Linked DNA regions of Homo sapiens: regions 2, 3, 4, 5 and 6 are each reported to be linked to region 1. Evidence: microRNA targets listed by miRTarBase, many of them from high-throughput screens and not tested one by one. Region 1 holds a microRNA gene; each other region holds the end of a gene's coding sequence.

What was found. Region 1 holds the annotated microRNA hsa-miR-4295 (CAGUGCAAUGUUUUCCUU, at 1,745-1,762, opposite strand). A microRNA usually pairs through its seed, bases 2 to 8, with sites in the 3' UTR of a target mRNA and lowers its output. Matches are read on the target gene's strand: a 7mer-m8 pairs with bases 2 to 8, a 7mer-A1 pairs with bases 2 to 7 and ends in A, and an 8mer does both.
Region 2: the mRNA of SNTB2 is a reported target of hsa-miR-4295. The part of its 3' UTR that is shown has no 7-base or 8-base seed match.
Region 3: miRTarBase lists PIGG as a target of hsa-miR-4295. The part of its 3' UTR that is shown has no 7-base or 8-base seed match.
Region 4: the mRNA of ERBIN is a reported target of hsa-miR-4295. Seed matches in the 3' UTR shown: 7mer-m8 at 1,988-1,994 and 7mer-m8 at 2,200-2,206.
Region 5: miRTarBase lists PURG as a target of hsa-miR-4295. Seed matches in the 3' UTR shown: 8mer at 3,244-3,251.
Region 6: miRTarBase lists KIAA1191 as a target of hsa-miR-4295. Seed matches in the 3' UTR shown: 7mer-m8 at 2,759-2,765.

The regions. Positions count from the first base shown.
Region 1 is chr10:112,631,849-112,635,941 of GRCh38, reverse strand. MIR4295 (microRNA 4295) reads right to left here and starts at 1,772; the gene lies at 1,688-1,772. The region is part of intron 5 of VTI1A (vesicle transport through interaction with t-SNAREs 1A); the gene reads right to left. LOC124902503 (a long non-coding RNA gene) reads right to left here. Exons shown (of 2, transcript XR_007062292.1): 2 at 1-4,093.
Region 2 is chr16:69,300,529-69,304,621 of GRCh38, reverse strand. It overlaps SNTB2 (syntrophin beta 2), which reads right to left. Exons shown (of 7, transcript NM_006750.4): 7 at 1-3,790. The coding sequence ends at 3,698. Among named protein-coding and RNA genes, the nearest start is that of VPS4A, 8.8 kb to the left of the region's middle.
Region 3 is chr4:538,629-542,721 of GRCh38, reverse strand. PIGG (phosphatidylinositol glycan anchor biosynthesis class G (EMM blood group)) reads right to left here. Exons shown (of 13, transcript NM_001127178.3): 13 at 2,522-3,569. The coding sequence ends at 3,353. Among named protein-coding and RNA genes, the nearest start is that of TMEM271, 36 kb to the left of the region's middle.
Region 4 is chr5:66,078,071-66,082,163 of GRCh38, forward strand. It overlaps ERBIN (erbb2 interacting protein), which reads left to right. Exons shown (of 26, transcript NM_001253697.2): 26 at 353-4,093. The coding sequence ends at 460. Among named protein-coding and RNA genes, the nearest start is that of SREK1, 64 kb to the right of the region's middle.
Region 5 is chr8:31,028,179-31,032,271 of GRCh38, forward strand. It overlaps PURG (purine rich element binding protein G), which reads right to left. Exons shown (of 2, transcript NM_001323311.2): 2 at 2,672-4,093. The coding sequence ends at 3,561. Among named protein-coding and RNA genes, the nearest start is that of PURG, 3.1 kb to the right of the region's middle.
Region 6 is chr5:176,343,845-176,347,937 of GRCh38, forward strand. It overlaps KIAA1191, which reads right to left. Exons shown (of 9, transcript NM_020444.5): 8 at 4,077-4,093; 9 at 2,218-3,964. The coding sequence ends at 3,756. SIMC1 (SUMO interacting motifs containing 1) reads left to right here. Exons shown (of 10, transcript NM_001308195.2): 10 at 1,339-2,145. The coding sequence ends at 1,601. Among named protein-coding and RNA genes, the nearest start is that of KIAA1191, 16 kb to the right of the region's middle.

The DNA.
Region 1 (4,093 bases):
GTTAAAAACTATTCCAAGTTTTACTCCCCATTTCCTATTACATGCTGGGTAGTTCACTCATCCCTTAAATTCAGTGGGCATGAATAAAAATCACAGCTTCTTGCTATGTGCCTCTTCCCATCAGCTAAATGTGGGCGAATCAAGTGGGTCTCTTGGGACTCACACATATCAACTCAGTTTGAATCTTCCTTTATTTTGCTTCCCATTTTGAACCAGTCATCGGGTTTTCTCAAATCTTTCTTTGAATTATCTCTCATACTTGTTTCTTTTCCATTCCTACTGTTGTAACCTCTCACAAAGACCAGTGCAAAAGCCTCTTAACTGGTTTCCCTGTCTTCATTGTCTACAACCATCAGTACGTCTCGATTGTTTGATCTTTCTAAAATCTTCCTAAAACACCACTCTGGCCATGCTCACCAAGAAAAATCCAAGGTTTAAGCCAGCATTTAGAACCTTTCAGAATTTAGGCCTAAATACTCTTTCAGGCTTCTCTCTCAATTCTCTCTGGCATATATTCTAGACTTGGCCACCTCTGAGCTTTGACCCTTGCGGTTCCCTGTCTGGAATGCCTCTACCAATCTCCAATCCGTACAATCCTGCTGACTGCTCACGGTTCTGCTAAAACACTACATCTGCCATGAATTCTGCATCTGCCTTTACCAAAGGGATCTTTCTCCTTAAATTCCTCAGCACGCTGTCTCATCTCCACAAGATTTACATGCCTGCATTATCCTCTTTACCAGAGTAAAAGCTGCTTGAAGGCAGGAAATGTGTTATCTTTTATTCCCCCCAAATAATGAGCACAGTGCCTGGCTCATATTATGAATAAAGGCACCTCCAGCCCCAGCTTTCTGAACTTTGCAGTTACAGGCAACAACAAGGCAGTGAAAACTCCGGCAAATGTCCGTAGGAGACTCCTAGAATTAGCTCCTCTAATGCTCCTCTGTCTGCCTATTTTAACAGTTAAGGAAGACACAGAAAAAATGTTGGCCACTCAGTCCAGGATTCAACCCCAGAGTTTATTTATTATGCATGTTTATGTATTCAGATTGTGAAGGAGGCAATGGGCATGGATTGTAAATTGATGGCAAACTTAATGAAAAGCAGACAAAACAGTGTAAGAAGGCTTAAATGCCTTTTAGAACATGGCAGATATATAAAAAAGTCATAAGAAAGTTTACAATAAAGAAAAGAATGTGGAAGAGTGAGAGTCAAAAAAGATAATTACGTAGAAGATTTTTAAACAGCTTGTCTAATGGAGATGCTGAGTGATTAAGACAAACAGCTTGCCAAACCACCTTGTCACAGGGACATAAATCTGAAAAAGCAGCAGACTCCTCAGAAAGGTCAGACAGATCACATTTAGTTTCAAAAGGAAGAAAACATGAAATTCGTGTGTGTGTGTGTGTGTGTGTGTGTGTGTGTGTATGTGTGTGTGTGTCTGTGTGTGTGTGTATAACCACCGAGAGGCAATGGTATGATATTGATAATCTTTGGAGAAAGAAACCTTCTGTATTGTCAAGTGACTTAAAACTCGAGGCACAATCCAAAACAAGAATTAAATAGCACAGCATAGTGTAGTCAACACCATATGAGAGGGTGCCTTCAGGGCAACACACACTGCTGCCAGAACACCAACCAAAAAATGGACAATCAGGATCTCAAAAGAGATGAGTCACCCAGAGGGTCTCTGTAGGAACAGTCTAGTTTCTTAGCCTTGAACCGAAGTGGTCTTGCCACAGGCAAGGAAAACATTGCACTGTTCCACAAAGTCAATTCTAAATGCATAAGCCATTGAAGCATATTTCTTATGGAATAAAGACTGAGGAGAAATAAAGGTTGAGTAATGAAAGTAAAGATGCAACAAAACTTTTAAAGTGGCCAATCTTGCTCATATAATGCTTGCAACCAAAAGGGAAGAAAGCTCTATTACTCTGGGAAAAAGGTGTTTGGATACACCACTAAAATAGGAAGCCTAAAAGAACCATTGTTTTATAATTCTGAGTTAACTGTGATCCTTTTTCCTTTTTTCCGTTTGTTAACTGATGGTATTTTCTGGAGTGAGTCATGACTTTTTTTTTTTTTTAGTCTAGAGCCAACTTGATAATGCTATTTAAATAAATTAACTAACTAAACTGCAAAGTATAAGCTCTTATGCCCATAAAATAAGAGAAGAACTGGGAAGTTCACCAACAAGGATGAAATAGGAGAGGCATTTAATAAAATTTGGTGACAGAGTCAGGGTAAGGTAACTCTCTCAGTGACACATTTATGTAATGCTAGTCTTCTCTGCATGGGAGACATTACTTTTTGGGGGCAATGCCCTTTTCCTCACCACTGCTTTTCTCCAATCTCTTCTTTGACTTCCTTTTGGGATCCCTGGGTATCCTGCTGTGTTGTTCCAGCCCCGGTGTTTTGCCTGCTATCTCTTTTCAATGTCTGAAGATCAATTATCCCTTCGTGCTAGCATAGGGAGGACAGAAATTCTGGGGACCACAACTTTTCCATTATACTTGAAGGAAAAAAGCAGCTCTCTCCTGTAAGATGGAGAATTCGGAGGTTTCCTCACAGGCTTCTGGTGATGCTTAAAGCAGAGAATCAACCTACAGGGTTTTAGCACAGTGCCTGGCACATGCGGAGTACTCAAAGGATGTGAGCTAATCTTCTTCTTACTATTATTATGTAAGTCCCGTAATTCTCTATGACCCACTATGTGTTCCAGATGATGCCGAAGACCTAGAAAAGTGGCTTTCATCACCATCAGACCTCTCCTCTCCTTCAGACCTCTCCTCTCAGGACTCACCATGTTGGTCAGGCTGCTCTCAAACTCCTGACCTCGTGATCTGCCCGCCTCAGCCTCCCAAAGTGCTGGGATTACTGGCATGAGCCACCACGCCCAGCCCAGACCACCTTTTTGTAACAAATATTTCACACAGGATTTTTAAAAAAGAAATCAATATAATGCCCTAGCTGTAATATAAATACAGGAAAATAACTTACAACAAAATAAGAAGTATTTCTATTTGTAAATACCCAGGCATTACTATACTAATAGATACAACTAAGTAAGTACATGCTTGTGCCTATACAACTGTCACATGCATGTACAATCAACATGCATGTGACACTACATATGCAAACCAATCCACAAGCACTGTAATGACAGCTCAAATACTACAAGTCGCATTACCATGAACACTGTACTCACCCAACTTTCCACCTGTTCCTCTTCCCTAACCCCCTTATGGTTAGGTAGGACTATATGACTATTTCTGGCCGGTACACTATAGTCAGAAGTGATGTACCTCAACTTTGGGTCAAAATATTGATGAGCTGGTATGTGAATCCCGTCTATCCCTGCCCGCAGTGGCTGGCAACGATCCCCATGGTGGAGTCTGGATGCTTGAGTAAGTGGGGCAGAGCCCTCTGTCAATGCTTGATCAACTTTTAGCATAAATAAAAAAGAAACCTTTGTTGTGTTAAACCACCAGAATTTCTAGGTTAATTTGTTACTGTAGCATAATCCTGTCTATCCTTCAATGGTAAAGAACTCTTTTAAAATAAACCCTGATTTTACACAATTATTGTATACTTGGAAAACTCCACATACGTTCAAGCCACACAAAAATACTTTGTGTTCATATGGAAAACTACGTTCAGATAATTATAAATAGGGTGTGCACCTTCACAAATGACCAGCAGGACATTTGAGAGTTTGTGCAGGATCAGGGAGTGTTGTAAAAGACTACGCAATACATTCCAGGATGTTTATTACCCTTGAGTTATCACTGAGATAACCAAAATGCCCCAACAAAGGTTCAAAATGTCCCCTAGGGAAGAATACTACCCCAACTGATGGACACTAACTTGGAGAAAAGATCAACATAACCATGGCTGGCCAAGTTGTATATTTTTACAATTACAATTACAATTATATTGTTATAATTACCATATTGTGGAATTTCATCAATAAGTGATTCATAGATTACAGTGTCTTAGAATCCTGGATTATGTTCTATAAGATGTAAACAAAAATAGGCGAAATAAAAGGGTTCTCTGGTCCCAGATTGAGCAATCCTGGGCTAAAGAGTGC
Region 2 (4,093 bases), not on the chromosome of region 1:
AGCTGGAAAAGCTTTGTTACCATTCAACTTAGGAGGATAAATTAGGAAAACAATCAGTAATAATGTTAGGTATTTGTTGTTTAGAAAGATTTTTTTACTTATAAAAATATAAGAAATAAATAATCCAATCTCTCCTGCCATGCAATAATTTTGAGTAACAAAGTTTGTGAGAGTACAGAACATAAAAACAGGCACTATCAGACCTTCTTTGGCCTAAAAAGTGCTAAAACATGGCTTTAAAATAGGTGAATGACATTTAAAGTAGTATTTTTGACTGCCTATATATGTTCCAGTATTTAACCTGAAACTCTTATCTACTAGGGAGGTGAGTTTACAGTTACAACTATCTAATAAATACTGCAGGAACTTATATTTAAGTATTTCTTCATATACAACATTAGAAACTAATTTCCAGATAATGTTTCATTTGATGACTTCAGGAAAGGACTTACCTTTTTCAGAAAAAGAAAAACTGAATGTTTTTCTTTTGTTCCTTTCCTTTTCTTTTTATGGAGAGAAAGGAGAGAAGTTTTAGGAGAAAAGGTGGGAGACTTTTCATATACCAACTCGCTGCTCCTAGGCATCTGTGTGGAATGTGGAGAAGCTGTCGAAGCCCCGGGTCTGGGGGGCACAGGAAGCAGTCCCTCTGAATGGGGAGCAGACACTATTCTGCAGTTTCCTTTCCATTCCACACACTGGAACCCACCACATCCTCAACAATTTTCTTAATTCAAAATGAAAAAGAAATGAAAAGTGAGCTGGTTCTATAAAAAAGGTAGAATATCGAAAATTCCCATTTGTAGTTATCATTTGGAAATAATTTGCCATACTTTGGCATCTAAATATAAATACATATTTATCATGGTGTCCCATTCATTAGAGAGCACTTCATTTGCGGACTGAAAATCCCACAAACACATTTGATTGAAGAACAACCTTGGTCATCATGACTGGAGAGCTGTTAGGTATGTAAGAAAAGCAGCAAAAGGGTTCTGGTTCTTGGGGCTGCTAATGGACAAAGGAAACCTCCCACACTTTCATTTCACAGCAAGACTCAAAAGATATTAAGAACCCTACAGACCTCAGTGCTATACATGTCAGTTTAACCTTGACCAAAATGAGTGAAAATGCACACATGCCTTGCCTTTCCTGCTCACATTTTAATTCCACCTATTTTACATCCTCATATAACCAACAAGCAGGGTGGCTCAGAAGCTCCCCTGCAAATCTCAGTGGCTTAGCTTTTCACATTAACACAGAAAACCTCAACCAAATGGCTTTGCTGCTGAAGTCTGTAAAGGCATCATTCAACATCTCATATTAATAATGCTCTCACTGCATAGAGGGTTCAAGATTGCCTACCTGAGGGTATTACATATTGAAATTCTGATTCCAGAAATCATTTCTGGACGTTCAAGAGATTTTTTTCCTTCTCTGAAATGAAAATTTATTGTGGGCCAGGCACGGGGGCTCACACCTATAATCCCAGCACTTTGGGAGGCCAAGGCAGGTGGATCACTTGAGGTCGGGAGTTCAAGACCAGCCTAGCCAACATGGTGAAAACCTGCCTCTACTAAAAATACAAAAATTAGCTGGGTGTGGTGGTGGGTAGCTATAACCCCAGCTACTCAGGAGAATCACTTGAACCTAGGAGGTGGAGGTTGCAGTGAGCCGAGATCATGCCACTGCACTCCAGCCTGGGAGACAGAACGAGACTCCGTCTCAAAAAAAAAAAGAAAAGAAAATTTATCTCAGATGGAGCCAATCTTAGGTTTATGAACTTTCAAAACATAAAAAGCTCTTGAAAGACATATTCTTGTCTAGATTTTAATTTCCAGTTTTAAGCAGTTCAGATAATTCATTTTTGGAACTTTGACAATTATATGAAGCTGGGGGAAGAACAGGCATCTCTCCCCAACCTCTGCATATTGTTGGTTTCACTGTAATGAGGAAGGAGGACTGACTTATGGGTGAAGGAGGACAATGGAGTTACAATGTTGACCTAGAACTCTCTCTGCTCATGGGTCCTCCCCATCGGTCAGGCCGCACTGAAACCAAATAGCTCATTTTGCACACAGGTGTGTTTTTCTCTTCTTTTCTCCCCCTGTGCCTGCCCCATCTGAAGTGACACCCTCCTCCACCCTCCACAGCGCTCACATTCTTCCGTGGCACTCTTGATCAATCAAGCAAACAAGAACTTTCCCTAGACCTTTCTTCAGAGAGCATAAAGAACATCCAAGTCAATATTACCTATTCTTTGAGATCCAGGGACTGTGCTAATTTTGACATTTTATATGATATTATACCATTTTAAATGTTTGCAGATATATACCACCTTCAAAATTAGGAAAAACAAGCTGAGTTCATTTTCTAACACTACAAAATCAGCATTCTTGCTGCTACTGTGTCCTAATGATATCTGGCAATCTTAACCAAAAGCAGGTAGCTGTTCCACGGTCTCATCACCCTGCTCACTGTAGGGTGTGCTGTGAAGCCAATAGTAAGTCTCGAATTAGCAGTTGCTTGTCCATGCCACTGCTGCCACAAAGGGCCAGGCCACAGCCAGGATGCTGCATCCTGTTGTTTTTGGGCAGCCCAAAACAATTCAACATGACGTTTGTGCGGAATTGCTGGCTTCACCCACCAAGTCTACTCCTCAAGCAGGCTGGCTCTTTAGGATTTATCTTGTTCAAACAGATCTGCCTACTAGAAGAGATGCCATTAAGGAAACCCACCTCAATGACTATTCCTCAAAACTAGGATAGGTGATCTCCTGGAAATGGCAGTGATTTCCAGTTATTCAAATAGTGACTAATAAAGCTCCACTAACCCTAACCAAAGGCACATTTGGTAAGCAATAAAAAAAATGGCTTAACCTAGGAAGAGGATTTTCATTTAAAATAAATCTTATCCCCTGGCTCCTAACAAAAATAAAATTGGAAAAACCTAAACCAAGCAAAACTTTTCTTTAAAAGCAGTGGCTTCCAACTTGCTTTTCAACTCAGTCACCACTAGAAAGGAAGTAGAAGGCAAGGCAAATCAAATTTACAAGTTCTAAGTCCTAGAGACAGTGGCAAAGCTTGGGATAAGGTGGGAAGTGATGGCCAGGCTGAGATAGAGGGAGATCCAGGGCAAATGGAACAACCCTTTGGTGATACAATTCAAGGACTTCCTATGGTGGAAGGAGCTAGTGAGGACAGTAAATTCCAAGACATACGACCTATCTGGAATGCTCAGGAAGCAACAGGCTGCTGCAAGCTAGCACCTGGGAAGGGACAATTGTTCTGAACAAGAGATCAAGGCTAAGCACAACACAAATCCTACAGGGAGAAGAAAAAGAAAACAATGCTTGGGTATTTGATTATGTCTAAAAATGAAAACAATGAAAAAAAAAGAAAACAATGAGCCATTCTTTTTAGCAGTAGAAATAAACCTAATTACTCATAAACCATATTTTGAAATGAGAATAAATCAACAGCTTCATTTTGGAGCCTTTTAGAGTGCTAGAATATCTGGCCAAGGTAGACTGTGAAAGGTAGGCTCTTCTTTAAACACGGTTATGGTTCAGCAGTTATTTGCAGGTCCTTGGGAAGGCACTGTGCTGAAGGAGAGCAAAGAGTTTCTTTTTGTGCTTTTTTTTTTTTGAGGTGGAAATATTTCTTGTGACAGTCAAGGCTCTTTTCTGATTTTTTGTTGCTCATACAAGCAGTCCCATACGAGTGACTTTGGCCGATAAAAACGTGTGCAACACAAATACAATCGGCTTCGGACAAGAGTGCAGGTCCATGGTCTGTGGAGAAAGGACACTAAGCATCACTACCTCACTACCATATACAGACAACTTAATAAACGAAGATGCAAAATAAATTTAAGGTAGGTAAAGAATGTGCCAGAGCTATGGAAACTCTTAGGAACTTAAAGCCACAGGCAAAAGTGCACTATGGAGTAAGGTTATTCCATGTCATAATACTGGTGTGAGGTTTCACATCCCCAATTAGGAGACAACTGGTGGTGTACTGGGTTTCACCATGCCTGGTAGGAAGAACTAAATAGTAGAGGATTTAAAATCTAAGGCCAGGCACGGTGGCTCACG
Region 3 (4,093 bases), not on the chromosome of region 1:
AAAATAAAAAGTGAGAAACTAAATAATATCACCAGAGAAAATCACCTTCACTAAAGGAAGACAGGAAGGCAAGAAAGAAGGCCACAAAACAACCAGAAAACAAGTAATATGGCAGGAGTAAATCCTTACTTATAAATAATAATGAATGTAAATGGATTGAACTTTCCAATCAAAAGACATAGAGTGGCCGAATGGATGAAAAATCACTTTACCATGTAATGATCCCTCTAGTGTTTTCCCCTCCAAACATCTTTTGATTGTATTGTCAAAGTTGATCAAGTTATTGGTGTTACAAAAAAAATCCACTTGGTCACAGGGCTCCACTGAGGATAAATGAATTAAAGTATAGCATAAACAATACTTTAAAACAGTATCAATCTTGTCATTGCATTGTCCTATCAATATTCCATAGTTACAGATATGAAGAGGCAGAAACTCTTTGATGTGGACAATCAGCCTTCCAATTGAAACAAGGCTTTGTGTATCCTCTGCCTGAGAAGCTGCCCTTTCTCTGTTAGCTACCAGCTCTCTTAATAGATGTTATAAGAAATTAATTTTAAAAGAATATTGTATATTTCTTGTAGTGAAGAAACATTTATTCAAAATTCAGCCTTTTCTTTGGTTTCACTTTTCCTGTTAAATTAAAAACTTATATAACTACTTTGGATTAAAAAGTTATATATAATATTTATATATAATTTGTATAAATATATATTTATATAAAATATTATTTGTATAAATATTTATATAAATATTTGCATAAATATATATTTATATATTATTTGTATATACATTTATATAAATATTTGCATAAATATATTTATATAAAATATTATTTGCATATATTTATATAAAATATTTGCATATATATTTATATAAAATATTATTTGCATACATATTTATACAAAATATTATTTGCATATATTTATATAAAATATTATTTGCATGAACATATTTATATATTTGCATATATATTTATATAAATATTATCTGTATATATATTTATATATTATTTGTATATATATTTATATAAAATATTTATAAATATATAGTATGATTTTCATGTATGCATCTATGCATCCTCCCTGCTTCTTCCATTTAGTGAACTGTATTCACTAACTGTTAGTGACTGTTTCTTCTGGATGGTGAGATTTTTTTTCTTCACATTTTTATTTTTTTAGAGATGGGCCCTGGCTCTGTTGCCCAGGCTGGAGTGCAACGGTGCAATCCTAACTCACTGCAGCCTTGAACTCTTGGGCTCAAGTGGTCCTCCTGCCTCAGCCTCCTGAGTAGTTGGGACTACAGGCACATACCACTACACCTGGCTAATTTTCAAATTTTTTTTTTAGAGATGGGGTCTCACTACATTGCCCAGGCTGGTCACAAACTCCAGGCTTCAAGCGATCCTCCTGCTTCCCCAACCTCCCAAAGTGCTGGGATTACAAGCGTGAGCCACCATTCACTCTTTAAAGACTTTTCTGATGAGCTCGGTTGTGATATAAATAAGTGATTTTGGTATGGAATAATGAACAACATTTGGAAATTTCTATCATCCAGTGAACTGTTATTTTCCAAACAACAATGCAGATGTTAAGAATCACATCTGGGTAAAAGTTCCATTCAGGGTGCAAGACAGGTCAATGTGTCGTAATGCATCAGGACATGAAAGTTCATTGATATGATTTCAGATTCCACATGGCAGCTAACCTTTTCTTTTTCAAAATAACTTTTGTTTTGAAATAGTTGAAGACTCACAAGAAGTTGCAAAAATAGTATAGAGAGTTCTACATATCCTTCACCCACCTCCCCCCAATGATGGTATCTTACACAACCAGATAAATACCAGGAAAATGATGTGGGCACAATTCTATTAATTCGAATACAGCCCTCAGTAGCATTTCACCAGTTTTTATATGCACTCGTTTCTTTTCTTTTTGTCCAACTAACCTTCAGCAAACTAACATTTGTTGAGTTTTGGTGTTGGCATCAAAAAAGATTTGGTGTTGGTATCAAAAAAGAACATCCACAATAATCAGAAAAAGGACATTAAAATATGCCTCCTCTTTCCAACTACTGATCTGAGGCTGGATTTTCTTCATATATATATAATAATTATTATTTTTTGAGATGGAGTCTCACTCTGTCACCCAGGCTGGAGTGCAATGGCACAATCTTGTCTCACTGCAACCTCTGCCTCCCTGGTTCAAGCGATTCTTCCACCTCAGCCTCCCAAGTAGCTGGGATTACAGGCACCTGTCATCATGCCTGGCTAATTTTTGTATTTTTGTAGAGACAGGGTTTCACCATGTTGGCCAGGCTGGTCTTGAACTCCTGACCTCAGGTGATCTGCCCCCGCCTCAGCCTCCCAAAGTGCTGAGATTACAGGTGTGAGCCACTCTGCCCAGCCGATTTTCTTCTTATATTGTAACCAAACACACATATCACAACAGGTCAAACACAAAATCCAACTAGCTTCAATTAGGCCAGGCATTAAAGAGGTTTGTAAAAATGTAAAACATTATCACTTTTCTCATTAAACATTTATTTTTTCATTTTAAAGACAAGAGTCTCACTCTGTTGTCCTGGCTGGAGTACAGTGGTACAATCATGGCTCACTGCAGCCTTGAACTCGGCTGAAACAATACTCTTTCCTCAGCCACCTGAGTAGCTGGGACCACAGGTGTGTGCCATCACGCCCAGCTAATTTTTTGAAGTTTTTGGAGAGATGAGGGTCTCACTATGTTTCCCAGGCTGATCTCAAACACCTGGGCTCAAGTGATACCCCCACTCTGGCCTCCCAAAGTGCTGGGTCTCACTGAATTTTTTTGTTTTGGAAAATATAGTTACTTTTCCTTCAAGTGTTTCATTAATATGCAATAGATTCCTTATAAATGAATACTTTTTTATCTTAGTTTTCATCTCAAATGCCATAAACACTGATACATGTAACCCTCATAAACCAAAGCGCCTTGGGGCCCTCAGTGGTTTGTAGGATTCTAAGAGCTCTGTGCTCCCTAAGGTAATCTGGGTGCCTCCTCCCACAGAGCTCCTGGACTCTAACAAAGTCCAGAACCTTTTCATTCATTGATTTAAACACACATATTTGGGTCACACCATAGCTTATTCAGAGGAAATTAAAAGTTCAGAAGCTTCTAGAGTGATTGTCAATGGGGGAAAATATGATACAAACTGTATATTAAAGTGATCTTTTATTAAACTATTTACTGCTTAGTCTAAATTCAGGTAGAGCAGTCAAAGAAAGTTATCCATCAACTTTGTTGAATTCATATCTTTCATTTTAGAATAACAGCAGACTTTAAGCATGTATTATTTTTCCAGTGTTCAGCTTAGTCTAAGACTGTGTGAGTCTGGTTTGATCCATTGCCGTGAAGAATACACAGACAGCAGCTGTAATGAGCAGGTGCATTCCCTCGTAGAGAAGTTTTGGAGAAAATACACTCCATATAAATAAATGATAACGCAGAGATGTCACCAAAACGATGTACGTGAAAACTGGAATAGAACAAATCAGTGCGTAGCAGAAGCAAGCATGACTCAGTGCTGAACCACTGTTAATAAGAAAGAAAATGTGTATTAGCACATGCCACTTACATATCACACATGTAACAACACTTTTATTTTCAAAAAGACTCCAGTAGCTCTTGCCCTTGGAGTAGAGGGCACCGCGTTCCTTCTTCTGCACACACATCCAGTCACTATGGTGCTGGGACAGGTGCCTCTCCAGATGCGCTGGAGACGGGAAAACCCAACCTGCCCCCTTGGAGGCTGTGTTCTAGTGAAGGAGGCAGGAGAAACCAGATATGTAACATGTCAGGAAGAGACAAATTCATGAAGAAAAATGAAGCAAACAGAAGGATGGGTGAGGGCCACCATGTCCCCCCCCACACACACCTTGAGCTCTCCAGAAATGCTTCTGAAACTTGACTGTATGTAAAAATCACCTACAGTATGTGCTGGAAGTGCCACTCTGGAGCCCCCCCTACAGAAATCTGGATGTGGTTGGTCTGGGGTGGGCAGAGGTCTGAGTCTCCAGAAGGCACGGAGGTGCCCGAGGGGACATGAGCTGCAGCCC
Region 4 (4,093 bases), not on the chromosome of region 1:
TGGCTCCAAGACAATGGGAAGAGTAGCCCTTGCCCCCTGCTACGCTACAGTTTGGTCACCTCAGATACACATTAGCATTATACGACACCATGTCTGACATTATTTCTTAAGTAAGTGATTTCTAACATTGGGCTGCTACATAAGAATTGGCTGAGAAGTTGGACAAAATACACATTTTTAGACCCCATCTTCAGAGACTTTATTCCTTGGTTTGGGTAGGGCCTGTGAATCTGTATGTTATTTTAAGTTGCCAAAGTGATTCTTATTTTCTTCCAAGTTTGTGAACTACTTGGCAGAAATGCAAATAAATAACTATAAAATGTTTTTCCTAAAAGCATTTTTCCTCTTCTAGGCTAATGGCTACAGTTTTATAAATATTGAACATGGACAAGCAGTGTCCTTGCTAAAAACTTTCCAGAATACAGTTGAACTCATCATTGTACGAGAAGTTTCCTCATAAGCACTGTGGACAAAAAAAGCGGGGAAGACAGCAAGATTTATTGGAAGATACTTACAGGGGAAATTAATATTTTGACTATTTTTATATATAAAGAAGAACTCAAAAAATTATGTTCAAATTTGTACATTAATGAAATAATGGAACTTGTGGTTAGAGGGAAAGAACCACTGTACAGAATATAAAGGAGACTGTTGAATTCATACCATATAAAACTTGTTAGGTTTTTAAACATAGCAATCAAGGCTACAAAAACAAACCTGTGTTGTTTTTGTATAGATTGTAGGTTTATTTTTGGATTTCATATACATGACTGAACTGTGTGCAAGGCAATAGTTAGCCTTGATTTTAGCCCAGAGACAGATGGCAGAGCTATCTCTCTCATAGCTTTTATGCCCTTATTTTTATTCAACTGGTATTAATGTTTTTCTCCTGAAACTACTTTTTTTGATGTGGGCAAGAGATTTGAAGTGTTGGCTTTTGCTATGTGCATATTGAATTGAAGAGTGAGTAGGTGAAGGTGGTGCTGGTGGGTTCACTTTCCAAGGCCAGACTAAAACAGTTATTTTCTATAAAAATCTGGAAGCAAAGAATGGGGATGGGGAGAGCTACGTGGTAGTATGTTTTTATTAGGAGAATAATGCAATAAAATATGTAATGTCTTTTTTATAAAGCAAAAAAGACAATAATTGCATTTATGAGCTCGGCAGGATCTGTTCTTGTCATAGCCATTGACTATACATTTGCTACTGGTGATTCAGTTTTTAATTTTTTAGTCACAGGAAATTTTTAACTCTACTGTAGATGCATGTCCATGCATTTTCTGTGTTATGGAAATCCACTGATTTTTTTTTTTTTTTCAAATGGTGGTACTTGCAATCTGTTTTATAATTAGTGCTCCATTTAAATCTAATTTATAATTTTTATTTTAAGCAGCAAATGAAACAAAAATGGCCAGTTTTAAGATTGTGTTGCCTGTAACACAAAATGTTACGAAGGTTTAGGAAAGCCTCTTTGATTTTTGTTTGGCCTTGCATTGCCTTGGTAAAGTAAAAGGAAACAGTACACTTGGAGCTAGGAAACCAAAGCAAGCTTTGTGAAACTGGCACAGTGATAGAGAATTGCTGTGGAGAGTTATAGAGCAAAGGGATGGGTCCTTGAGGCCTGCCAGTGTGTAAAGGTGTTCAAATAAAGGGCTGTTTCTACAGGTAACATTAAATGTGAACTCAACACTTCCAGAGTCTTTAAAGGGTTTCTATGTGTATCAGTGTAATAGTGTTTTACCACCAACTGCCTTTCTTTGTTCCTAGTTACTGTAACAAATATTTGATGATAGAGGTTTATTAATTTTGTTTATCCAGACCATTAATTTTATTTGTTTTTGTTCTATGTAATCAAATAAAATTTGAGTAACATGTAATGGTAAGGATTAATGCATGGTTATTTGGACCAGAAAAAAGTGCCATAGAAGACCAATAACTGTTTAGTTGAGGCTAGTCTGGAACCTTTCATTAGAGCAATATTTGGTTATTGCACTTCATTTTTATTTACTAAGAAATGCAATTTGGGAATTTTTAATCTGTTATGCTTTGTTTATCAACCTTGATTTTAATTAAGACTTTTATAAGACTAGCTTAAAACACCAACCAACATTATTTTTGCAAAAGTGAGTTGGACTCACTTTCCATTCTTGCTAGTCAGAGTAAGTAGGCAGCACTTTTAAAAATATGTGAACTCAAATATTGCACTTCTTTCAAGATGTTATCAATTGGTTATTGTACTGTATAGTTTTAATAATTTTGATTGAAACCCTTTAACAACTCTTTGTAAATTTTAACTCATTTTAGTTGATTTTCAGTACTATTTACATAGGAATTGATTTTTATGGATATAGTAGAAGAAATGTGCTGTATTTTGATAAAATTCACTTATTGTATGTGTGTTGTAATCTAAAAAAAAAAAGAATGACAAACAGCTTCTTTAAGACAAGTCTCGGTGTTCCCTTTATTCTTAGTTTGTTTTTAAATATTAATTTTGGCATTCTAAAATAGCTAACATTTCTTTTATTGATTTCAGATTTTCACAGGCACATTCTACTTTTAATCAGAAATATATTTAATAAGTATAATTGTGAAGTTTTCAACTACTTTACCTTGAACCACATATACCAATTATAATTTTGGAAAAGGAATTAAGCCTCACGGAACAATGGATCTTCAGCAAACCTTAACTTCATTGTCTGCACATTACATTGAAGTATTATAAATGCAACAGATGTTATATGCACTGGCATTTTATCCTACTCTAGTTAGTTAAAATTTTATAGTATTCTTGCAACACATAAAGTTGCGTAAGAAACTTTACCAAGAGGAGTATTATAGCCAAGTTTTCTTTGAAAGTATTGGAAAACTAAAATTAAATGACAAGGACTTTGAATTAGAATTTTGCTGTAATAAAGTTTCAAAATTTGAATAAAATAATTAAATTTTTTGAGGAAGTGGAGAAGACATTTTTAGTTTATATATTGTTGAGTAAATTGTAGTTAAGGCCTATACCCATAACTAACTTTAGTAAGTATTATATAGCAATTCATCAAAACCACAACTGTCTTTTAGTGATTTTGTCTTTAAGAGTAATTTCTTACTCTAACCAGTAAAAAAATAATACTGATCAGAGTAATTTATACGGCATACAATAGTTGATACAATCTAAAGATTTATGCTAATTAAGGAATTATCACTTCATCTGAATCAATGAAATTCTAAAATTCCCTACATATTTATTTTGTAAATATTCTTCTGACCTCTTTGGACTGGATATGAAGATATATATATATACACTTAATTCTTTTAAACACAAAACTTGCCATAAGCAGAACCAAACTTTTAAGTATTAATTTGCTGCACTTAAAAAATCCCATTAGCAGCTATGTAATATTTTTATCAACCAACATTTATTCATTCCAAATTTTTGTATATATCTAGATGAAGTAACACATAGAGGATAGATAACAAACTAATGATGTTTAAACTGGTTTATTTACAAAATTCGGGGTTAGAGAAATTCTCATGAAAAATATACAATTTTTTTTTAGCATTAAAACCCTGTATATCTAGGTGTGGAAGAAGTGTAGTTTATCTCAAATTATTATTATTTACTTCTAAAGGGAGGCATTAAGATGGGAAATGTTTCTCTGATGGAGATTGACGTGTGAAATCTATTTGGAAGGGTATTTTTTTCACTCAGTCTGTTGCATTCTTACAGCCTTCTGTTTTAATGTTCAGTGAATAGGTTTCTTATGAAATGGACATTGAAATAAAAATTATGATTCAAGAGCATTAATTGATGAACAAGTGAACAAGATGCCTCTTTAAAAAAAAAAAAGAAAAAGTAATCTAGACAGGCAGCCAACTCAGACCTTTGGGTATTCCTTTGTTTCTAAATAAGGACCTTCAGAAAAAGTTGACCATATTCTACCTAAAGCTGCTAATTCTTTACAGAATTCATAAGCCCAGGGGATAGTAAGTAGTCATTTAGTTTTGGAAAGTTCTTAAGAGAATGCTATCTTCTACAGTCTCATGAAGCAGTTTTTCAAGATTAGAATCTGTGGTCAGCTATAACGTACAGTCCTAATAT
Region 5 (4,093 bases), not on the chromosome of region 1:
TAGTATTTTATTTATTCTAGTTCTTAAGACATCAAATGTGAACTCTACTTTAAAATTCTTTGTTAAATATACTGGGATTTGTTTCAAAAGCATCTTCTACCCTTCTCCATTACACTGATTTAATGGAAACCTGTTACAACAACAGTTCCAACACAAACATATGCATGCACGGGATCACCTTATAGATTCTAGCTACATAGTTATTGAAACACATCCCACCTGTCAAGTGGCATAAATGTACATCTTCTATATACAAAAGGTAAAGTGCATTATTAAATTAGTGAACTGACAGATTGTCTGCCTGGACCATACAGCTTTCAAATAGACAAATGTGAAATTCTCATATTAGAACCAATTATTTCAAGAGGTTCCAACTAGCTTTTCCACCCTGTCATTTATTTTTTTGGCCATGCTCTTTAGTGCAAATAAGCTTGTGTTTGACTCAAGTTTCAGGGACATGGCAGTCTGGGGCTTTAACAAGGAAAATTATAAAATGTAGAGGAACTTTAATATCTTTATAATACATTGCATCTTTTGCATAAAGCAACAGATTAGTGCTGCTTTCGATTGCTAGGAGCACACTGCCAACTATCAAGAGGAACCCGTTTCCAAATTTCATACTATTAGCTTATATTACTACAGTTTGAGCCTGTACCACATTATGCTTGGATTATTAGGTGCAAACATCATCAGTGTTTTAGAATTATACAGTGAACTAGTACTTTTGGTTACTAACTTTCATGCTCATTTTTTAACTTCTAACTTCCAGTTGCCTTAAGAGTTTAATGTCTTCAAGGCAGGGATTCTGTTATTTTGAAGGATACCATGAACACTTGCAGCTCCATGTATGTTACAAATGACAATAAATAAAATGCATATTGCACAGATAAGAATAGTAGCTTATTTTATAAGATACATGGCAATACATGTCCTAAGACCAGAGTTTTGAACTGGATCATATTTAATTACGGCTAATGAATTCTTGGGAATTTTAAGTATCAAAAAGTCATAGCATCATCTCATTTTTGAATGATTAACTATGAAAAAAATGAAACAAAAGGACTGGCAGAAGGCTTAATAATTTTAGAGTATACTCAATTGCCAGTATATATGCATCTATTTAATCTGCAGCTTTGAGATGGTAAAAACTTTGAAGTATACATACAAAGTAGAAAATCTGGCTGCTTAACTAATTCTTTACTTAAATAATTAATGGAAAACTAAATTTAATAATGTTTATATACAATGAGTTAAAGATATTTATCTTTAAGTCTGACATGGTATTGTATGTATGTATACACACATATATATGTATACATGTATATACATATGTCTGTGTGTATATATATAGATATAGACACATACCCAAATCTTATCAGACCCAAAAGGTAAAAGGAAATCATTTAGACCTAATGGATATAAATATTTTAGAAAGGAAGACTTTAAGAGAGTGTATACACTCATAGCAATAGCGATAGGAACAATCAAATACTAGAATATTCACAGCTCCAGTTTGCCAAAATCTGACAGGTTGATTATTATTAATAGGCACTATGATGGGCAGCAATAACAATCAGTAGTACAGTAATTCAAGTGCACATCATTCCTTCATAGACCAAAAACTACTTTTTTAGCAAGCCTACATAGTTATTTTACAGTTAGGACTGTTTAAAAATCCTTGCTACTTTTAGAGTCTCAACACCCACCATGTGCTATTAGCTCTAGTACTAACATTATCTCCTAACCTTCAGTTGTTCCATAGTGATCCAGATGGTCCACAATTATAATGAACTAATGAGATTCCTTCACGCTACTAGAGGAAATGTGAAATACAATCTGCAAACCAACACTAGTATATATGTCGGGGTTACTGATTGCTTGTTCTTAAGTAACATAAACCAATGAAATTAATTTTTTTAATTCATACCATCAAGTTTTCTTAGTGACCTCACGTAAAGGTATTGGGGGACAAAACTCTGGAAGAAAAAAATCGCTGATATAATTTTAAATTACTTTTAGCATATAAAAGAAGAGCTACATTCTGATTTGAATCCATGCAGCCAGCTCTCATCAATGAGAGTGATATTTGGGGGTTGAAATCAGTGTTCTGGCTCTTAAATATGATTAGATGGACTTATTGTGTGGGAGGTGAATAAAGCCAAGATAAAAGACAATAATTTCATTCAGAAGAAAATATAGCTGAATAGATGTAATTTCAGTCAATTAATACAGGATGGGTTGGTACACATATAACACTATATCCACTTGTTTAAAAAATTGCTTAGGTGTTGAAAAATTGCTGTGGCACTTCCTGGAAAGTAATTTTTAATACAGGTAAATGGGTGAGTCTTGTGTAAAGTCAGAAAGAGCACCTTGGAAAATGCCTGAATTTTCCTTTCAAATATATTTATAACCAATCTTCAAATAATATTTTTCTCAGACTGGAAATTTGTATTCTAAATTATTTTTAGAAAAAAAAAATCCCCACCCCCTCCAGAATTAAAACACCTGTAAAATTCAGGATTATATTGGAAGTGTTGACATGGTTTTAAGGGTAGCAATTGCAAAAGTGCTACTAAAATATATTATTACAGGTATATTTTTATATCAGTTAATTGGTACACCAACCCTTCTGAAAGAGTGTTAAAGAAGAAGCATAAAGTATAACACCTTGAGTCCATGATATATTTTGGGGAAGAAACCTCTTGCAATCTTTAAATTAGCATGAAAAGCTACACCACCAAGATTTCCATAGCAAAGCCATTGGATGAAGCCTCCCACTCAATGTGACATAAAAGTAATTCCTGAAACTTTGGAAAGTCAATAAAAATATATGGAACATTAAGTAGAGGTAAAGAAGGGATTGTAACTAAACTTAGAATAACGAATTAAAACTCTCCCATGGCTTTGATATGGCAACTATAAAATGTAGGGTTACCACAAAGTTTGAAATTATAGAATACTATAGTATTCTTAAGAAATATTATGACATTATATTTTTAAGGTTTAATTAGGTAATAAGATTTGATCCTTTGATGGTATATTCAGTTATTCAACGGACAATATACGTCTACTTGTACTTTTATAAGTAAATATTTATATATACCGGAGGTCAATTTCTGTTTCTGTGGTAACTGCCCTACAGGTAAGCTTAGCAGCTTTTAATGAAGTAGAATTGAAATACTTTTGGGGGAAAGTCACACTTCTATTTAAGTATATGTATCTTTTTTCGGGATTATGTCATAGTGCAATGTAAATCTTAGTTATGGTATTTAGAATGTCAGAATGTCACATTTTGTGCTGATTTGCATACTTCAATAGTCTGGAGCAGTTGAAGCAGCTAAACTATTTAGCTCTGGGAAGGTTGGAATTCCCGTAAGAATTATAGTGATCTATGTGTAACATAACATGAGAATCAGACTTCCTGAAGTATCAACTACTAGAGGTATTACTAATAACAACGGGCCAAAAAAGAGGAAAAACTTCTTCAAAGGATAATGGATCAGTACTTTTAGCCAATTTGTGATTTTAAATTTTGCCTGATGGAGTTCAATTTCACTCTAGTCGAGGCATTCTTGTTCTTCACCACTGGCCTTTCTGCCATCCATTCTCTTTTCTTTATGGCTGTTGCAAATTTTCCTCATCTCTTCTTCATACTTGATAAAATTCTCCCCAAACCTTGTCCAAGCTTTGAATGGAACAGTAATAGTATTACGGTAAGGTGGTCTCACCTCACTTACCTTCAGGAAAATTCCATATTTATTAGAGCCCACATCAAAGTAGAACCTTTTATTGTCCACTCTGAAAGAAGTCCCCTCTGGGAGTTCAAGCGGGTCATCGTCTCCACCTCTTCGTTCTTCTATGTCTCCTTCGCCATAGTCTTCAATCAGCTGAACCAAGGCATCACGAAACTCAATCATTCCTTGTGCTGGGAGGACAATAGTCTGTTCTTGGCCCAAACTGTGGCCAAAATAACCTATCATGCCAGTCCCCCGCATCATGGTTTGTCTAATCCGTAGGAAGCGACCCCGCTGATTTTCCTTTAGGTCTAGGTAATATTTCCTATTGTCCCTCTCGATATAGTCTGTTTTCA
Region 6 (4,093 bases), not on the chromosome of region 1:
GTGCAGTGGTGTGATCTTGGCTCACTACAACCTCCACCTCCCGGGTTCAAGCAATTCTCCCACCCTCAGGCTTCCGAGTAGCTGGGATTACAGGCATGCACCACCATGCCCAGCTAATTTTTTTGTATTTTTAGTAGAGACAGGGTTTCACCATGTTGGCCAGGCTGGTCTCAAACTCCTGACCTCAGGTGATCTGCCCATCTCCGCCTCCCAAAGCACTGGTATGACAGGCATGAGCCACCACAGCCTGCCATGAAACTTGTTCTTGATAGAATATTATCTAATAGTGTCCCAGTAATATACTTTTTAGGTAGTTGATTTTAGATTGAGCCAGGATACGGTCAAATATGAAGCACTGTACTTGGCAGTCATACTCTTTGGTCTCCTTTAGTCCAGCACAGTTCCCAGCTTTTACTTGTCTTTCATAATAGACATTTTTTAAGAGTCCAGGCCAGTTATTTTGTACATGTCCTATGATTGGGATGTTTAATTGCTTACTCGTGATCACACTCATGTTAAATACTGTTGACAAGAACATGGAGTAGGCCAGGCACGGTGGCTCACACCTGTAATCCCAGCACTTTGGGAGGCCGAGGCTTGCGGATCACTTGAGGTCAGGAGTATACACACACACACACACACACACACACACACACACACACCTGAGACTGGGTAATTTATAAAGAAAAGTTTAGTTGGCTCACAGTTCTACAGGCTGTACAGGAGGCATAGTGGCCTTTGCTTCCAGTGAGGCCTCAGGAAACACAATCGTGGCTCAAGGGGAAGCAGACACGTTTTACGTGGCCACAGCAGAATAAAGAGTGAGGAGGTGCTACGTAAACACTTTAAACCACCAGACCTCATGATAACTCACCATCACTAGAACAGCACCAAGGGGATGGTGCTCAACCATTCATGAGAAATCACCCCCACCAGGCCCCACCTCCAACATCAGGGATTACAATTTGGGACTGTCTAGTTGTTTATTCATGATCATACTCATGTTAAATACTATTGGCTAAAACATGGACTAGATGAATATGTCTAATTGTTTCCTCAGTATTTTCATTTTTTGACCATGTTATGTGATCATAAAAAATGACACAGATCCAAACCATATCACTTTTTTTAATGTAAAACTTCTTAAGGACCCGAGAGAACTGAGAACAAAGGGCCTTTTGGAAGTGGAGTTACTGCAGGCACTCACACAGCCTTCGACTTGTATCCCTGTAGCTAGTCAGCAAGTCTTTGCCAAGACTCTACCTACCAAAATTAGACTTCTTAAAAAGAATTAAAAAGCAGTTCAGAGCACCCAACTGACTTTTTTCCCTCTTGCAGAACACTTAAGGAGTTCCGTGATCGACCGAAAGGACTTAATAATCAAAAGGATTAAGCCCAAACCCCAGCAAGGAGATGACATCACAGTGGTAGACGTAGAGAAGCAGATTGAGGCCTTCCGCAGCCGCCTGATCCAGATGCTGGGGGAGCCTCTTGTCCCCCAACTCCAAGACAAAGTGCACTTGTTGAAGCTCCTGCTCTTCTATGCTGCGGACTTGAACCCTGATGCAGAGCCCTTTCAAAAGGGCTGGAGCGGCTCCTGAGGGCCTGCCAAGCACTGAATGCCAAGAATACCTCCTGAACTCTCTCTCCAACTGCTCAGAAGCTCTAAAAGCATGAAAAGTGGTTAAAATCTTACAGGACCAAACCTGCATTATTTAATCAGTAGGTTGTAATTTCTAACTCTAGTAAATATCTTTTTTTAAATAATCCTATCCTAGCCTGTTCTCAAATATGGCTTAAATATACAAGGTATATATATTTTTTAATAAATTATTTATCTATACTTTTTTGAAACAGGTTAATACTCTGTGCATCACATGTTTAACATTTTCATTCAAGATGTGGAAAAAATCCCTCTGCTGAACCTAGTCTATACACCAATATTATGTCATTCAAGGTACCGACAACCTGTTTCAGGAGAGAGACGTTCATTTTTCCCTAATGAAATGCAAGCATTCTGTTAGACCTATTATATTGCCTGTTAATTTGACTGTAATGAATAGGGGGTAGAAACAAAAGGATCAAGTGTGTTATAAAACATTTGATGTTAAAAGGAGACAATAAAAAGGCAATGGTTTTTCAAAATACCAAGTTCAGTGTGACTCTGGGTGGGTAGAGTGGAATAACTATTGTTAAAAGGACAAAAAAATAGCCACATTTGAGAAAGTAGTAAGGATTTTTATTGTCAAAACGAGATCATAATAGAAGACACAAATAAATTAATTGTTCTCATAATTTTAGACTCCAGGGCCTCTCTATGGAAAGGCCAGCTTCTTATACAGACAAGGTACTATCCAAAACAAAAAGCAGGTATTTGAGACAGTGTTCAAGACAACAAGTGAACTTGTACACAGTGAAGAGAAATAAAAAGGTGGCTTCTGTATTTCCCTCCCTCAGTAAGGTTATGTGTTGCATAAAGGGATGAGGCTCATTTTGGTGAAAAATGCTTTCATACAGAAAATTTTGAATTGAGTGACCTCCCCGCACAGGCGTTCCAGGCCCTGACCTGAACAAGGAAATCAAAGTAAGTTAACACCACTGGCTTCACATGAACCTCAAGACTATAATCTAACGGTATCTACCATCTCCTTTACTTTAAAAAAGTTTAATGTCCATTTACCTATACCAAATCAGTAGACTTAATTTTCTCTCTTAGGAAGTTTTTAACCAAATTACAGCTAAATTAATCTCACTTTAAAGTGCAAGAAAGGCTCTGCTAGAGTAGTGTTTGTTCTGTGGCATAGAAAGAGGAGCATGCCTCCTCCGGCACTGGCCTAAGAGGCCCCACATGAAGAACTAGCTGCAAGACAGTGATCCATTAGGTCTGCCAAAAAGCAGGGGGACTCAAGGTTCAGCCTAGAAAGAGGGGTCCCTGCCAAGTCTGGCTTTTACCTGTACCCAGGTCCCAAACAAACCTTGGGTCCCCTAACTGATAAGGCTGGAGCACAGCACCAGTCATCAACAGGGCCAAAGTCGTCTTAGCGAGTCAGTGAGCACCTCTAAGCCATGATTTGTCAATGCTCACATGGATAGTGGTAAAGGAATAAAGAAGCCTGGGTTTTGGAACAGTACAAACATTCTTTACCTAGTAAGCAGTGATCAAAGTTCTTACCTAGGGTAAATGATGAAAAAAATAGGTAATGAGGTCCCCATACACCCGTGCTGAGAATATTAGTCTAACTTTAAAGCAGTACAAAATGGCTTCTTCCACACAACAAGGGCAAGCTTTATACTAATGTTTCTCAAAAACCAATTACATCTCCAGCTCTAGCCTCAATTTAATAGGTTTTTTACTTTACTTTATTTATTTATTTATTGATGGCGTCTCGTTCTGTCGCCCAGGCTGGAGTGTAATGGCATGATCTCAGCTCGGTACAACATCTGCTTCCTGGGTTCAGGCGATTCTCCTGCCTCAGCCTCCCAAGTAGCTGGGACTACAGGCGCCCACCACCACGCCCAGCTAATTTTTGTATTTTTAGTAGAGACGGGGTTTCACCATGTTGGCCAGGCTGGTCTTGAACTCCTGACCTCAGGTATCCACCTACCTTGGCCTCCCAAAGTGCTGGGATTACAGGCGTGAGCCACCACGCCCAGCTGATTAAGTTTTTAAATATACCTTTCCTATGTCAAAGCCAAGGTAAAAGGGGAGTGGGATGCAAGAAACCACCTTTACCAGAATCCCTGGAAAGAGGGCTCTAGAAGCCAGTGGGTGTGAGCACATTCAGGTCACGGGGTTTGAGGTTATGGGCCCGTGGTGGCTGTTTCTTTCCTTCCATCACTGGGATGTCCATCTTGGGGGGCTTCAAGGCTGCTGGATCTTCAGCCATTCGGTTGGCCTGGGCACGTATCAGTTCCAATGGAGAGGGCTTCTGGGCTCCTCGGTAGGCCTGGGTGGCAAAACTTCCTACAAAAGTGAACCAGAGTGCAAATGATTTCAAAACCAGTAAACAGCTCCCGGTATACAATATGGTAAGATGTCTGCCATGCTGCTCTCTTTTTTGAAGGTGCTGCCTTACCAGAATCGTACTTCTGA